Linked DNA regions of Homo sapiens: region 2 is linked to region 1. The links come from fine-mapping of genetic effects on gene expression. Tissue or cell type: whole blood. Region 1 holds a variant in brackets; the other region holds the start of a gene. All regions are shown on one strand. Distances are between the middles of the regions. Region 1 overlaps ECPAS (Ecm29 proteasome adaptor and scaffold). Region 2 holds the start of ECPAS (Ecm29 proteasome adaptor and scaffold).

Evidence for each region.
Region 2: it holds the start of ECPAS, and the variant in region 1 is fine-mapped to the expression of ECPAS in whole blood (TOPMed, PIP above 0.99). The same link has a PIP of 0.9 or more in CD4 T cells, T cells, blood mononuclear cells and naive CD4 T cells.

Annotation. Positions count from the first base shown.
Region 1 is chr9:111,454,601-111,462,942 of GRCh38, forward strand. All of the region lies in intron 2 of ECPAS (Ecm29 proteasome adaptor and scaffold), which reads right to left. Among named protein-coding and RNA genes, the nearest start is that of ECPAS, 26 kb to the right of the region's middle. The variant C/T (reference allele first, on the strand shown) is at 3,723.
Region 2 is chr9:111,479,585-111,487,926 of GRCh38, forward strand. ECPAS (Ecm29 proteasome adaptor and scaffold) reads right to left here and starts at 4,799. Exons shown (of 50, transcript NM_001364929.1): 1 at 4,532-4,799. RefSeq lists silencers at 3,429-3,848, 4,119-4,238, 4,359-4,898.

The sequences.
Region 1 (8,342 bases):
CATCTTTACAGACCCATCTATACTTAAATAAAAGATAAGCTTGTTCAAGTTTCACAAAAAAGAAGAAAGGTCAACATCTACAGATATAACTGCTATATTTTTCTTTTCCTTTTTTTTTTTTTTTAAATAAGACAGGGTCTTGCTGACACCCAGGCTAGAGTGCAGTGGCGCTATCCACAGCTCACTGCAGCCTCAACCTCCTGGGCTATTCTCCTACTTCAGCCTCCCAAGTAGCTTGGACTACAGGCATACGCCACCACACCCAGCTGATTTTTTTATTTTTTGTAGAGACAGAGGTCTCTGGTCTTGAATTCCTGGTCTTGAATTCCTGGCCTCAAGACAGAGGCTGGTCTTGAATTCCTGGCCTCAAGCGATCCTCATACTTTGGCCTCCCAAAGTGCTGGGATTACAAGTATGAGCCACTGCACCCGGCCTAAGTCTTTTGAGTATAGTTAAACTTACCATTCCTTCCCTATATGACTTCGGAGTTTCTAGGCATGCTTAGAAAAGTCATTTTCACTGCAAAATACTTTTAAATATTATATTGTGCAGAGAAGAGTTTACACAGACCCAGGACTGCTACCTGTAGAAACACTTGCTTTCGGCCTGGCACATGGTTCACGCCTGTAATCCCAGCACTTTGGGAGGCCAAGGAGGGCAGATCATGAGGTCAGGAGATAGAGACTATCCTGGCGAACACGGTGAAACCCCATCTCTACTAAAATTTCAAAAAATTAGCCGGGCGTGGTGGCGGGTGCCTGTAGTCCCAGCTACTCAGGAAGCTGAGGCAGGAGAATGGCATGAACCCAGGGAGCGGAGCTCGCAGTGAGCAGATATCGTGCCACTGCACTCCAGTCTGGGCAATAAAGCGAGACTCTGTCTCAGAAAAAGAAAGAAAGAAAGAAAGATGTGCTTTCTAGCTGAGGCTGGCCCATGGCTGATATCTGGAAACCTGGATTTCAGCAGGGTTCCCACCATTCCCAGAACTGCTAAGAGTGGTTCATTGTGCCTGTCTGTGCAAATAATATTGTTTATGCTGAACATCAGCTTCCCTTCAGGGCGGAATTTTGGTACATTTTAGGAAGAAGGTACCAACATGACCAGCCCCAAATAAAAACCTGAGGCACTGAGTCTCTGATGACCATCTCTGGTGGATACCATTTCAGAGGTGCTGTCACAACTCACTTCTGGAGGAATCAAGTATGTGCTGTGTGACTCCACCAGAAGATTCTTGGAAGCTTGCACCTGGTTTCCTCCAGATTTCACTCACATGACTTTTCCCTTTGGTGACCTTGCTACACTAAATCTTAGCTGGGAGTACAAATATATGCTGAATCCTGTGAGTCCTACTAGACAATCACTGAAGCTAGGGGCGAACTGGGAGTCTCCTGGCAGGTATATTTACCTATGTTTTCTTTCAAGTACACTTATGATTTTGCTTTCTGCATTCAAGTCTTTGATCCATCTGGAATTTTCTTTTGGTATATGGAGGGATGTAGGAAACAAGTCTTTGGTGGGTTTTTAAAATCTTCTTAACTATGTAATAATACATACAGAAAATCATTCAAAACATAAATGCATGGTTTAATGAATTATTATAAACAATCTTGTGACTACCCCCCAAGTCAAGAAGAAAATTAATTTTGAAGCCTGCATAAAGAAAGATTTGTACTGGACTGAAAACAGAACTGAAGAAGACTGAAAGATTATATAACGTAAAAAAGCACAGTGAGTTTTAAGGACTTGCCCAAGGTCACAGATTAATTAGCAGCAGAGTAAGAATAAGAATGGAGTCTTCTGACCTTTAGTCTAAAAATCCTTGCCTATACCATACAACTGTCTCCAAGAATGACCCTATTTTCTATCAGGTACACATACTGTACATACTACACCTTATACAGGAAGTTTTATTTGAAAGAATATCCAAACGTTCACTAGAATGTGTCTCATTCAGGCAGTATTTATTACAAAAATGGAAAAACATACAAATTCAAAGGTCAGAAAACAACACTAGAGGGAACTCACTACTATGAATAAGAAGCTAACTCCATATGTGACCAGCTGCAGTTCAACCTTTCTCCTCCTCCTTCCTGCTCATCAAAATTCTCTCCTCCTTCAAGGCCCAGCACCCTCCCAGTTTCACAGTCAAGCACTCATTCTCCTATCTAGGTCACTCATTCAAGTATCTACTGAAACTCTACCATGCGTAAGAGCTTGGTGGTCATGGGTAAAAAGAGTGGAGAGGGAAGAGGCATGGATGTTGTCCAGGCTTACCTCACAAGTATATGATAACTGCATGTAGAAAGAAAATAACAGAAGGCCTAGGACAGACTGTTTGCGAACAACAGCATTTAAATGCAGGAGAAGGAAAGTCTGAAAAAGGGAATGGTAGGCAACAGACAAAAATAAAAAGAAAACGTGGGGTCAGAATAATTAAGAAAGATTTTCCTAGGAGACAGCAGTCAACCATTTCAAATGATGCAAAAAGATCATGCAAGATAAGAATTGAAAAGAATCCAGTTAATTCAGCAATAGAGTTCACACCTGACCTTGGCTCAAGCAGTTTCAATGAAGTGGTAGAGAAAAAAGCAGACTGTACAGGGTAGAGGAATCAGTGGAAGATTAAAAAGGATGTGAGGAATACAGTAAATGACAACTCTTTAGAAACTTTTAGTTATGAAAGGGGAGGGGAACAGTTATTTTTCATTATTTCAATCAAATAAGAGCTCTGAGCACATTTAAATAGCAAAAGGAAAAAGCCACTAGAGAGAAAGAAACTGAAGAGGGAAAAAATTATTAGACTGTGACCCTGAGAATATGGGAGAGATTAGGATTCAGCACAAGGTCTGAGGAATTACCTTAGATAGGACAGGAAGGCCATCTCTGCCATTGTAACAGGAGGGAAACAGGAAGACTGCTGTTGATAAAATCAATCTTATAAATTTTATGGAAGGGCCTGAAAGAATTCCCTTCTGATGGTTTCTATTATTTCTGTAAAATAGAAGGCACAGTCTTCTTCTGAGATTTGGAGAGCAGAGGGCAAGTGGGCAGCGTGACAATGGTAGGAAAAGGCTTGCCCCAGAGTGAAGAAGAGAAGAAAATTGACTGGTAAAATGAACTACAAATGTGAAGAAAGTGTAAAGGACCCAATTGAGGTTAGTGAATATAAATTTACAGCAGCATTAATCCACACAGTCAAACAAATAAAAAATAAATCTCCTATCCTTTCTTCCCCCTACCCCTATAGCATTTATATCAGTGTCTAATCACTGAAAAAATACAAACATATACAGACAACGTTTTCCAAACCTTCAGTTATAAATGTGATTTAGGAAAATATCCTTTATTTCACATCAACCAACTAAGGAGAATTTCTGCTAAAAGAAGTATCTAGATTTTGTGTGCATATACATACACACATGAGAAACACACATTAAAAAAGTATAAAATTCCTCCTTTGCATATATTATGGGGACAATTCTAAATGGGCTATTATTTATAAACTATACATTATTAATATAGACTTGTGAAAGCCCAACTAATGATTCTCTCCGAGAGTCTAAGATATAAAGGAGCCAACGGACCTATATTTTCATGTCAGATACATTACTGGTTTTAGTTAGTAAACTAAACCTCTCTAAGGTTATTAATGAACTTGTCTATTAGGAACAGCATAAGATTGCTTCATAAGAATGTTGTGAAACATTATATAATGTTATATA[C/T]GGCTATCATATTACAGATGTAGCTTTTATATTCTTGTGTAATAAAGAATTTAGGTGACCTCTGTCCATGTTCCTGAGAGGAAAGCACTAAACCCTTGGGATTTCCCCAGTAACTGAAGTGCCTTTGTTATTCATGGTGGGACCCTCTAATCACATTTGATAACTTACACTGAGGAAGTAACTCATAGTGGGCCCCAGATTGTTTACGCTAAGAGATAACTCAGGATGGGGGTTGATCACACTAGAAAGACTAATCATCTTGCAGGTTTTCAGCCAGGTGATTAGGGGAGGTGGACAAGGGGAAGGGTTGGAGAGGGAGAGGAGGGTGGGGGGGGTGTTAGAAATTGAGTCACATGGGCAATGATCCAATCAATCAATCACACCTGGTCAATAAAACCCTGGACACCAAAGTTCAGGTGAGCCGGTGAGCTTCTATGATCAGCAGTGCATTGTGTGTATTATCACACATTGCTATACTGGGAAAGTACCCTGACACAACACAAGCTTTGCATCTGGAACCCTCTCAGGCCTTGCCCTACATGTCTCTCCCTTTGGCTGGTTTTAACTTGCATCCTTTTCTATAAAACCATAACCATAAATACACGGCTTTCCTGAGTTCTGACTCGTTCTAGCTAATGATTAAACCTGAGGGGGTCCATGGAGACCCCCAAATCTGTATCCAATAGGTCAAAAGTGAGGGTGGCTCTGGGATAACAGGAACTTGTAGGTGGCATATGAAGTCGATTCAGTCTAGTGGAGGGCTATGCCCTTAACTGGTTAGGTTTGGCAGAGTAATTATATATGATATAAAATATTTTCCATATGTTATATAAATATTGTATATAATTATCTCTCAGAATACATTATTCCTTTAATTTTACCTTTTTCTTTTTTTTTCCCCTTAAGCTCAGTGGCAAGAAGAAATTATTATCTTTTTCTTTTTTGTATTTTTTGTAGAAATGAGGTCTATGTTGCCCAGGCTGCTTGTGAACTCCTGGCCTCAAGCGATCCTCCTGCCTCAAACTCCCAAAGTGCTGGAATTACAGGTATGAGCCATCATATTTGGCTAATTTTACCTCCTTTTTAAATAAAGCTGACTACTACTACAAAAATAAGTATTTTAATAAATCAGAAGTCTACGAAATATTTGAGAACACACATTCCATCAGCTGGGAGCAAAATATGAATTATTAGTAGAATCCCACCTAGAGTAGGAATCCTATGCTAGGTATGTTAATAACCCCATTTACTACCACCAAAGGAAAACTGAGCCAGGCCAGAAAGCTAAAAATCCCATGTGACAATACCTCAGAGACACAAGAGCTCATCATACGGAGGCATAACTTAGTACAAAGTCATAATTACATGATTTTAAGGGGCTTTTTTAATTACTTCTAAAGACAGACCACAATGATACAACTCACAATTATAAATTCTGCTTTAAAAAACTGGTTCATTCTAAATTACCACAAATATGAACTGTATTATTTAAAAACCTCCCCACACAAAAAAATGGCAGGACCTTATGAATTCGCTGGTAAATTCTCCTTCATAACTTCTTCCAGAGAAGAGAAAAAGGTGGGGTAAAGGGATGGCAGGGGAACACATCCCTGAATGTTAAGAGGCCAGAATAACCTTGATACCAAACAAGGGTATCCCCAGAAAGATAAAAGCAAATAAAAGATATTTCTCATGAATATAGACGCAAATGAGATAATAAAATAATATTTAAATCATAATACATAAAATAAGTAAAAAATATGAGTCAAATCCAGCGATACATAAAAAGGATAATACATCATACAAAAATTGGATTTATTCCAAAGATGCAAAGTTGGTTTAATATTGAAAATCAGTGTAATCTGCCACATTAACACAATAGAGAATAACAATCATATGATCATCTCAATATATACAGAAAAGGCATTTGATCAAATTCAACATCTCTTCATGCTAAATAGATGGGAACAAACTATTCATGTTGAAGAGACAAGGAAGAAAAGAGAACTTCCTTAATCTGATAAGAGATTTTTATAAAAACTTACAGCAAACATTATATCTAAAGGTAAAATACCAAACACTTTTCCTCTGAGTTCAGGAACAAGGTAAAGATGTTCACTATTACCAATTCTATTCAAATTTGTACTGCAAATTTTATTCAGAGCAATAAGACAAAGAAAAATAAAATGCATTAAGATTACAAAGGAAGAAATAATATTTTCATTATTTAAAGATAATGATTGGTACACAAAAAATCCAAAACAATCTATGGAAAAATTAATAGAATAACAAAATACACAAATCAATTGGTTTCCTATATAATAGTAATAAACCATTAGAAAACAAAATTTGAAAACACCTATTACAATGACATCAAAACACATCGAATAGCTGGGAATTAATCTAGGGAAAAATGTGTAAGACCTCTACACAGAAAACTAAAATACACCGCTACAAGAAATTAAGGAAAACTTAAAAGATACACCATATTCACAGATTAGAAAATATTAATAAGATGTCAATTCTCCCCAAATTGACCTATAGACAATATAATCCAAGCACAATCCATCAGATAACTTGGGTAACACTAAAAAGCTGATCCTAGAGCCAGGCACAGTGGCTCGAGCCTATAGTGGTTCCAGGCCAGCCTGGGCAACACAGGAAGATACTAACTATCTCAATCAATGAATGAGTGGATGAATAATCTTTAAATGTGTGGATACCACTAGAAGAAAAAAAAAAGTTGATTCTTTCTATAATTTAAAGAAATGCAAAGGACCAAGATTTGCCAAAACTATCTTGAAGAGGAAAAACAGCTAGAAGACTTTGGTCAAATTTCAAGGCTAACTACAGTAGGCTGGGCACAGTGGCTCAGCCCTGTAATCCCAGCACTGTGGGAGGGCAAGGCAGGCTGATTGCTTGAGCTCAGGAGTTTGAGACCAGCCTGGGCAACATGGTGAAACCCCATCTCTACCAAAAAAAAAAAAAAAAATTTAGCTGGGCGTGGTGGCGTGCACCTGTAGTCCCTGCTACTTGAGAGGCTTAGGTGGGAGAACTGCTTGAGCCCAGGAGGTAGAGGTTGCAGTGAGCCAAGATCATGCCACTGCACTCCAGCCTGAGCAAAAGAGCAAGACCTTGTCTCAAAAAAATAAACACATAAAATAAAAACTACAGTAATTAAAAGTATACTATGCTAACAAAAAATAAGTAGACCACTTGAACAAAATAGAAAATGTGTAAAAGACAAACAGGTATATAGTCACCTGGTTTAAACAGAGGTGTCACTGCAATGTAGTGAGTAAATGATGGTCTTTTCAATAAATGGTGTTAAATCAACTGTATTCCAATATGGGAGAACAATATTTAATCCCTACCTCACACCATATCTATTAGTCCGTTTTCATGATGCTGATAAAGACATATCCAAGACTAGAGAATTCACAAAGGAAAGAGGTTTAATGGAGAACTACAGTTCCATGTGGATAGGGAAGCCTTTCAATCATGGCAGAAGGCAAGGAGGAGCAAGTCACATCTTAACATGGATGGCAGCAGGCAAAGGGACAGCTTGTACAGGCAAACTCCCGTTTCTGAAACCATCAGATCTCCTAAGACCCACTCGCTATCACGAGAACAGCATGGGAAAGACTCACTCCCATGATTCAATCATCTCCCACTGCATCCCTCCCACAGCACATGGGAATTATGGGAGCTACAAGATGAGATTTGGACGGGGACACAGAGCCAAACCATATCATCAAACAAAAAGAAAATCAATTCCAGATGGATCATAAATCTAAATGTCAAAGGTAAAACAATAAAGTTTCTAGAGAAATAAAGAATATTCTCATTACCTCGAGATAGGAAAAGATATCTTAAAACAAGAAGCTAGATGGTAAGGGAGTCTGAAAAATATGATTAGCAGAATCTGTCCCAAAGAGTAGTTTATAACTGTGGAGCTGGAAATAACCGTCACTGAAAGAAACTTTCATAATCTGACAAAAAGCATCTATGTAAAATCTACAGCAAATATATCTCATACAAAATCAGAAACAAGATGTGCACTATCATCACTTCCAAGCAAATTGAACTGGAACTGCTAGAAAATGCAATATGGAAGTAGGAGATACTAAAAACTGTCAGTATTCACAGATTACATGATATTTATGGGATAGGGTATGTAAAATAAGAAAGTTAATTATGTTGCATACAAGATCAGAGTACAGAAGTCAACTGAGATAAATGAGAACAAAGTATCAATGTAGTTTTTAAAAACATATAATTAACAATGGCAATAAAACTACAAGTTATCTGGAAATAAATCTAATGAAACATGTCATAGTCCTTTACAGAGAAAATTATAATCCTAACTATAATTCATAAGATCTAAATTAATGGAGAAGCACAACATTCATGGAATTTTTTTTTTTTTTTTTTTTTTGAGACAGAGTTTCACTCTGTCACCAAGGCTGGAGTGCAGTGGTGCAATCTCGGCTCACTGCAACTTCTGCCTCCCAGGTTCAAGCGATTCTCCTGCCTCAGCCTCCCAAATAGCTGGGATTACAGGCATGCGCCACCACACCTGGCTAATTTTGTATTTTTTGTAGAGATGCAGTTTCGCCA
Region 2 (8,342 bases), 25 kb after region 1:
TCCGTCTCCAGAAAAAGACAACAAAAAAAATTGTTAAGGTGGTAAATTTTATGTTATGTGTATTTTACTACTATTTTTTAAAAAATAAAGTAAAACTAAAAAAGTTTAACAATTGGCCAAGCATGGTGGCTCACGCCTGTAATCCCAGCACTGTGGGAGGCTGAGGTGGGGGGATCACGAGGTCAGGAGTTCAAGACCAACCTGGCCAAGATGGTGAAACCTCGTCTCTACTAAAAATGCAAAAATTAGCTGGGCGCAGTGACAGGTGCCTGTAATCCCAGTTACTCAGGAGGCTAAGGCAGGAGAATTGCTTAAACCCAGGCGGCAAAGGTTGCAGTGAGCCGAGATCGCGCGCCACTGCACACCAGCCTGGGTGACAGACTGAAACTCCGTCTCAAAAAAAAAAAAAAAAAACTTTAACAATTTTTAAAAATCTACTGAGATGGACAAATGACAAAGTTTGCTATAATAGTAAATATGATAAAGTTATTTGACTATCAATGATAGAATCTAAGTGGTGGGTACACGAATGTTCACTTTCAACTTTTCTGTGTGTTTGAAGATTTTTTACAATAAAATGTTAGTGGAAGAGAACAATGCTGGCATCTAGTAGTTTGCTTTTACTATCATCTACTAGTCATAAATGATAGAAAATATTTGGATAATTCTCTCCTTTTTTTTTAGTGGAATTCTTAAAAGCACCTTTTCTTTTTTTTTTTTTTTTTTTTTTTGAGACAGAGTCTAGCTCTGTTGCCCAGGCTGGAGTGCAGCGGCACAATCTTGGCTCACTGGAACTTCCACCTCACAGGTTCAAGTGATTCTCCTGCCTCAGCCTCCTGAGTACCTGGGACTACAGGCACGTGCCGCCACACCAGGCTAAATTTTGTATTTTTAGTAGAGACAGGGTTTCACCATGTTGGCCAGCCTGGTCTTGAACTCCTGACCTCAGGTGATCCACCCATCTCGGCCTCCTAAAGTGCTAGGATTACAGGTGTGAGCCACCACACCTGGCCAAAAGCACATTTTATCAGCATCTGCTATTTTATTATACCCATTCTAAAACTAAAAGTGGTTTATATGAAACTTCTTAACCAGTGTACATGTATATGCTTTCAAGTTAAATTATTCTAAGGTATCAACTGCAACGTATTCAGTCTCTCCTGAAGAAATACAGAAACCAAGTCCACCGATATCTGTGGCTGATGACTGACAATTTAACTGAACAAAACAAGAAGAAGGCAAGGATTGGAATTATTTGTTCCTAACTTTCCATTAGGTACTAGAGCCAGGAAATCCCTTAACTATCAGCATCTTAACCAGTACCTGAATGTATGGAAGCACACTGCATAGACACAAATACTTCAGCCACTTCAGAATATCCAATTCTTCCTCTAGTTTTGTTCCCATTCCTGCTATCAATTCAGACTTTAATGTGTTTGGTTCTACAACAGGAACTCAGATGTCATACAGCATAGCAATTGAAAAAAAATCAGACCACCTCACACCCAACAGGATGGTTACTACTGACAATATAGATAAGTGTCGGCCAGGATATAGAGAAATTAGAACTCTGTGTATTGTTGGTGGTAATGTAAAATGGTACAACCACTGTCAAAAACAGTACAGTGGGGGCCGGGCGCGGTGGCTCACGCCTGTAATCCCAGCACTTTGGGAGGCCGAGGCGGGTGGATCACAGCAGATCACAAGGTCAGGAGATCAAGACCATCTTGGCTAACACAGTGAAACCCCGTCTCTACTAAAAATACAAAAAATTAGCCGGGCGTGGTGGCGGGCGCCTGCAGTCCCAGCTACTCGGAGGGCTGAGGCATAAGAATGGCGTGAACCTGGGAGGCGGAGCTTACAGTGAGCGGAGATCGCGCCACTGCACTCCAGTCTGGGCGACAGAGCAAGACTTGGTCTCAAGAAAAAAAAAAGAAAAAAGAAAACAGTACAGTGGTTCCTTAAAAATTTAAAACTAGAACTATCACATGATCCAGCAATTACATTTCTGGGTATGTACCCAAAAGAACTGAAAGCAAGGTCTCAAAGGGGTATCTGTACACCCATGTTCACAACAGCATTATTCCCAATAGCTAAAATGTGGAAGCAACCCAAGTGTCCATAGACAGATAGATGGACAAGGAAATGTGATATATACATACAAGGGAATATCATTCAACCTTTAAAAGGAAAAGAAATTCTGACACACGCAACAACATGGATGAACCTTGAGGACATTATGCTAAATAAAGATAAAACCAGTCACAAATTCTGTATGATTCCATTCACACGAGGTAGGAAGAATACTCAAAATCACAGGGACAGAAAGTACAATGATGGTCGCCAGGGGCCGAAGGGAGGAGGGAATGAGGATTTGTTGTTTAATGGGTATCAAGTTTCCGTTTTACAAGACGAAGAGTTCTGGAAATGGATGGTGGTGATGATTACACAACAGTGTGAATGTACTCAATCCCACTGAACTGTACACTTAAAAAATGGCTAGGACGGGAAATTTTATGGTATGTGTACTTTTCTTCCAATTAAAACAAAACATGGAACTGATCTCAGAAGGCCTGGTGGTGCTTCCACGTGGAACCGACAGAAGAGCAATCTGTAGCCCGCTTCTCTCTCTAATCGCACCATGAGACCTTGTCTCCTCCGACTCTCCAATCTGCTCAGGATCACACCAAGTGTTTACTTCAGCTTCAAAAAAAGCAAACAGTACTCCTGCTCCACCAGTTCTGTGTCAAAGCAGCAAGGAACTTAATCTCTCCAAACCTGCCTCCTCTTTAAAACAAGGATAATTCCTACCTATCTGCCTCACAAGGTTGCTATGAGGGCAAAAGTGAGATCATGTATATAAAAGTGGCTTTAAACTGACAAGCACCAGAAAAACATACATTACGTGTATAACTACTTTCATATGGAAATTCAGAAGCGGCTTTAACAACGTAAGCTTCATAAAGCTTGCAACACCTCACCCATGCTTTATTCCATTTAAAACCCACATCATCTTCAAATAACACCTTTCTTGTTTTTGCCATAAACTGAAGGGCAGCATTGGGAGAAAAAAAAAAAGGGAAAGAAAGAAAACCCTTGGGGGGGAGAACACTCAAAACGCAATCAGAAATTATCTCACATGTCCTATGTCCTATGAAACTTCGGTATTTATGACCCCAGCGTGGGTCCGCGGCGCCCCGGAACTACACTTCCCACAAAGCATTGAGGCGAACCCCGGCGGCGGGCGGGGCGGCCTGGGATTCAGGGTGACCACCGCTCTCCCCAGACAGGGACCGCCGTCCCCGGGAAGGCTGCACCGCGTACGATCGAGGGGGCACTAACTCTCCTTTCTGAAAGCGCTGTCACCCCGTGGTTTCTCCTGCGGTTCGACCGGCGACCCTCTCCGCCCTCCCTGCTCCATCTGAGGGTCACCGCCTATTCGTGACCTTTCGGCTGATTACTAGAGTGTCACAAAAAGGCACCTTCTCCCCCTTCCCGAAAGCTCCATTTCTATAACTCAACCAGCCGTCGGGGACCCGGGGCCAGGCGGGGTCAGACGGGACGGGCGGACACTGCCCGTCACCCCGGGGCTCCGGCCCTCCCGCCAGCCGAGGCTCAGTGGGCAGGGGGCTGGGCTCCCCCGACCCCGGGCCAGGGCGGATCGCGGGCAGAGGTGGCTCCGCCCGGGGCTCCGGTTTCAATTTCGCAACGTGACGGTGCAAACCTGAGGCCTACAAACGCCAGCGGCGACGGTCCGCGCCCCGCCCGTCCGCCAGGCCCGGGCTCCCCAGCTCCCCGTACGCCGCGGCCGCCGCCCGCCCACCGGGCCTGGCGCCCCAGCCCTCATGCGGCCGCCGGCCCCCGGCACCGCGCGGCGCCCGTTCCGGCTCGCGGCCGCAGGTTCGGCCGCGGCACTTACTCAGCTCATCCTGGGAGGCGGAGGCGGCGGCCGCAGCCATGTTGCGCCGGGGAGGGAACGAGGGAGGGGCTGGGGGGGCAGGGCGCGGCCGGGGGGCTCGCGGCTCGCGGTGCGGCAGGGGCCGCGAGCCGCCTCCGTTCACTCGGCGCGGACCGCGCTGTGCCCCGAGGCCCGCCCGCCGCCGCCGCCTGCGTCCTCCGCGTCGCGAGCGTCGCCCTTCGCTGCCCCCGCGAGCTCGCGACTCGGGCGCTCCCGCAGCCTCGCGCCTCTGCGGAGCCGCTGCCGCTGCCGCCGCCGCCGTCTGTGCGGCCGAATCCCCGTGCGCCAGGCCCGCGCGGCGGCTCTGCGACTCCGCGCCGCGCTCGCCCAACTCACGCCGGTTTTATATTTAGAAAGAGCTGAGCCATCCTCCCAGCGGCCCCCCCGCCGGGCCCCTCGCGCGCCCGCCCGCCCTCGCTCGCTCGCGGCTCGTCCTGCCCACCTGTCGCCGCCCGCCCCGCGTGCGCTCCCCGCGCGGACTCGACACGCGGCGGCCTGTGCGGGCGGCCCGGCCTAACCGCGCCGCCGCGCGCGCAGGGCCAGTCCCCCGCGGCCCGGGGGCGGGCCTCTGACCTGAGTCGGAGCCGGTCTCCATGCCGCGGACGCTGCGCTCGGCGCCGCGAGGTGAGGGCTGTAGAGCGAGGCGTTCGGCGGGCCGGGCCCCGGGGAGCCGCGCGCCGCAGTCCGTGAGGGGCTGGGCCGAGCGGGCCCGGGCTGCCCTAGCGGCCGGGGGAAATCCTCGAGGCGGGGCCGGAGCGCCCTTTTCCGAGGTCTGCGGCTGTCACGTTGGCTGGGCCCGACCTGGGGAAACACGCCTGTCCAAAGGAAGAGACGTGGACTCAGAAAAGTAGAGCCGGGCTCGGAGTCGGCGGGAGGAAGCCCCGCCCTGCGCCTCCCGCCGAACTTCTCGGCCCCGGCGCTGACTCAGTCCCGGACGAGCCCCTGCGCCGCAGCGGCCCCCGACAGCCCAGTTCTGGTGTGGAGGTGGCTGGTGCTCCCAAAACGGCTAGCGGGAGCAGGGGGTCCACTCAGCCCTGCAAAAGTTAGATAAGGCAAGATTCCTAAAGTTCACATGGAAGTATCTATGCCTATGTGAGCTCTGAGATTTTGTTCAGATACCCTATGTTCTTTTCGGTAACTAGAGTGATTTATTTTCGATATGCTGATTTTAACTTTCTGCCTTCGCTTTGTCCGTGAGGTCATGTACACTTGCAAAATGAAATTCAAATTCAGGGGTTGCATAATTGCTGTACTTTAAGTGATGGTACTGTCATAACAAATTAGATACAAGATCAGATACTTTTTTTATATAAGAAGAAATCAAGTCTTAAATAGATTGAAATTGCATTTATTCCTTAAAGCAGAAATCTATAAAGCCCTAAGTAATGTCTTAAAAATGGAATATATGTCATTCCTGTTGTAACATAGGCCAAGTACAAGGTACAACACTGAAGACATTTTTATTTCCTTTATTGTTTTTGTTATAGAAATTATACATGATCTTGGGCCGGGCGCGGTGGCTCACGCCTGTAATCCCAGCTCTTTCGGAGGCTTAGGCGGGTGGATCACGAGGTCAGGAGTTCGAGACCAGCCTGGCCAACATGGTGAAACCCTGTCTCTAATTAAAAAATACAAAAATTAGCTGGGCGTGGAGGCGCGCGCCTGTAATCCCAACTACTCGGGAGGCTGAGGTAGGAGAATCGCTTGAACCCGGGAGGCGGAGCTTGCAGTGAGCCGAGATCGCACCACTGCACTCCAGCCTGGGGGACAGAGCGAGACTCCGTCTCAAAAAGAAAAAAAAAAGAAAAATTATACATAATTTTTGTAAAAAAAAAATGCAAATGATTTGGAGTATCATAAAATTAAAAGTGAAAGTCCTTCCTCCTAGCCCCACCATCCCACTCTGCAGAGAAATTATGACTAACAGTTACAGTTAAGTGTGCAGAAGACCTTTTCTCTGGACATATATATACAGCCCCATGTATGGCTTTGATGGGGACAGGTTTCTACAATAAAGTTCTGGATCAATTATTCCTTCACACACATTGTTCCATGTTAATTCAAAACACTGCACTACCATCACCCTTTTTTGTTTGTAACTTCATACTACACTAAGTTAACCAACCCCTTTTTTCATGTATGCTCCTCTTTTATTTGATGTTGCCTCCAAAATAAATACACAATGAACTACTTACAAACAATAGAGAGGTGTATACAGGTCTTCTCCCAACTGCATACCCACCATCCCCCCTCATCCCACTCATGCCCATAAATAATCCCTATTAACAGTTTGGTGCATTCAACCTTTCCTTACTGTTTCCGTGACTATAGAAAGTAGCTGCACCAAAGACTGGTTTGGGGAAATTTGACTTCCCATAATTTCAAATGGATCCTTCCAAAGCCACCCCAGATAAATACAGAATCTGAGTAAAAAACAATGGGTTTGTTATTTTATTTTATTTTTATTCATTTATTTATTTATTTTATTTTATTTTTTGAAACGGAGTTTCGCTCTTGTTGCCCAGGCTGGAGTGCAATGGCGCGATCTCGGCTCACCGCAACCTCCGCCTCCTGGGTTCAAGCGATTCCCCTGCCTCAGCCTCCCGAGTAGCTGGGATTATAGGCATGCGTCACCACGTCCGGCTAATTTTGTGTTTTCAGTAAAGACGGGGTTTCTCCATGTTGGCCAGGCTGGTCTCCAACTCCTGACCTCAGGTGATCCACCCACCTCGGCCTCCCAAAGTGCTGGGATTACAGGTGTGAGCCACCATGCCTGGCCGTTAGGCAATTTTAACCTCCAGGCAAGACTAGTTAACAAATCCTTAGTTCCTCCTATGAAGAAATTCCAGGTTCTCTGCGTGTACAAATCACATGAATGTGTGTACACAGATTTTTGTTAGTTTTGACAAAAATGGAACTCTACTTCCCATATTATGTAACGTTATCTTTTCACCAAATAATGTATTACAGGTGTCCTTTCATATCAGTAATGATAATAATGGCTAATGGAATAATAATTATGCCAGACACCATTCTAGTGTTTTACTTGGATGAATTCATCTAACCCCCACAACAATCTTATGAAATAGGGATTTTTATGGCACTGGATGGTTGAGGAACACATCTAATGTGCCACAAACTGGAAAGTAAGTGGTGGAGCTGGGATTTGAACCTGGGCAGTGTGGATTCAGAGTCAGCTTGCTTAATCACTAGGATCAGTATGTACAGAACTACCTCTTTTTTTTTTTTTTTTTTTTGAGAGGGAGTCTCGCTCTGTCCCCCAGGCTGGAGTGCAGTGGCACGATCTCAGTTCACTGCAACCTCCGCCTCCCGGGTTCAAGCGATTCTCCTGCCTCACCCTCCTGAGTAGCTGGGATTACAGGCATGTACCACCACGCCCAGCTAATTTTTGTATTTTTAGTAGAGATGGAGTTTCACCATGTTGGCCAGGCTGGTCTCAAACTCCTGACCTCAAATGATCCACCTGCCTTGGCCTCCCAAAGTGTTGGGATTACAGGCGTGAGCCACTGTGCCTGGCCTCATTTTTTTTTTAAATGGCTGCATGATAAGTACCAACAAAATGTATTTAACCATTTCCCTATTGATGAGCTGTTAGGTTGTTTACAGTTTTTTACTAAACAATACTACTGTAAAACATTCTTATACATATCTTTATGTAATCACATATTTCTAGATGTAGATGTGGAATTGTTAGGCAAAAAAAGATCTTAAAGTCTCATTACATACAGTAGTTTATAGCAACTTACAGTGCTACTTCTGATCACTACTGTGTAAAGCTCTAAGCTTTTTTATACTTGCTTCTTCCATCAAACTACTTGTAGTTCATTTTTCCCACTAAATAGCTTCATGTTCATATGAAACACTTAGGTTTTGAATAACAGCAGCCTTGAGATAGTTCCTGTCTAGAATTCACTTCAGCTGTCAAAAACAGAGGCAAGAAGGAATTGGGGTGAGGAGGAAAACAGGAGCCAGAGAAGAGGCTACTGAGAAACCAAAATAGGATATCATAGAATCCAAGAACTAAAAACCTGTCCCCTCTCCTCTCATGTAGGCTGTCTTCACATCAAACACATATACAGTTCTAACAAGATTTTTAAAAATCTTGTTTCCAGCGTTAAAGCAAAATATTTGAAAGCATTCTTCTTCTGGGCAGATACATGGATGACAAGTGCTAACAGACACCTAAAAACAAAGAAGCATACAAATTATTAAGCTAGGCTGGGCCAGGCACAATGGCTCACATCTGTAATCCCAGGACTTTGGAAGGCTGTGAGGCAGGAGGATCCTTGGAGGCCAGGAATTCAAGACCAGCCTGGGCAATCTAGCAAGACATGGTCCCTACAAAAAATCAAAAAGTTAACCA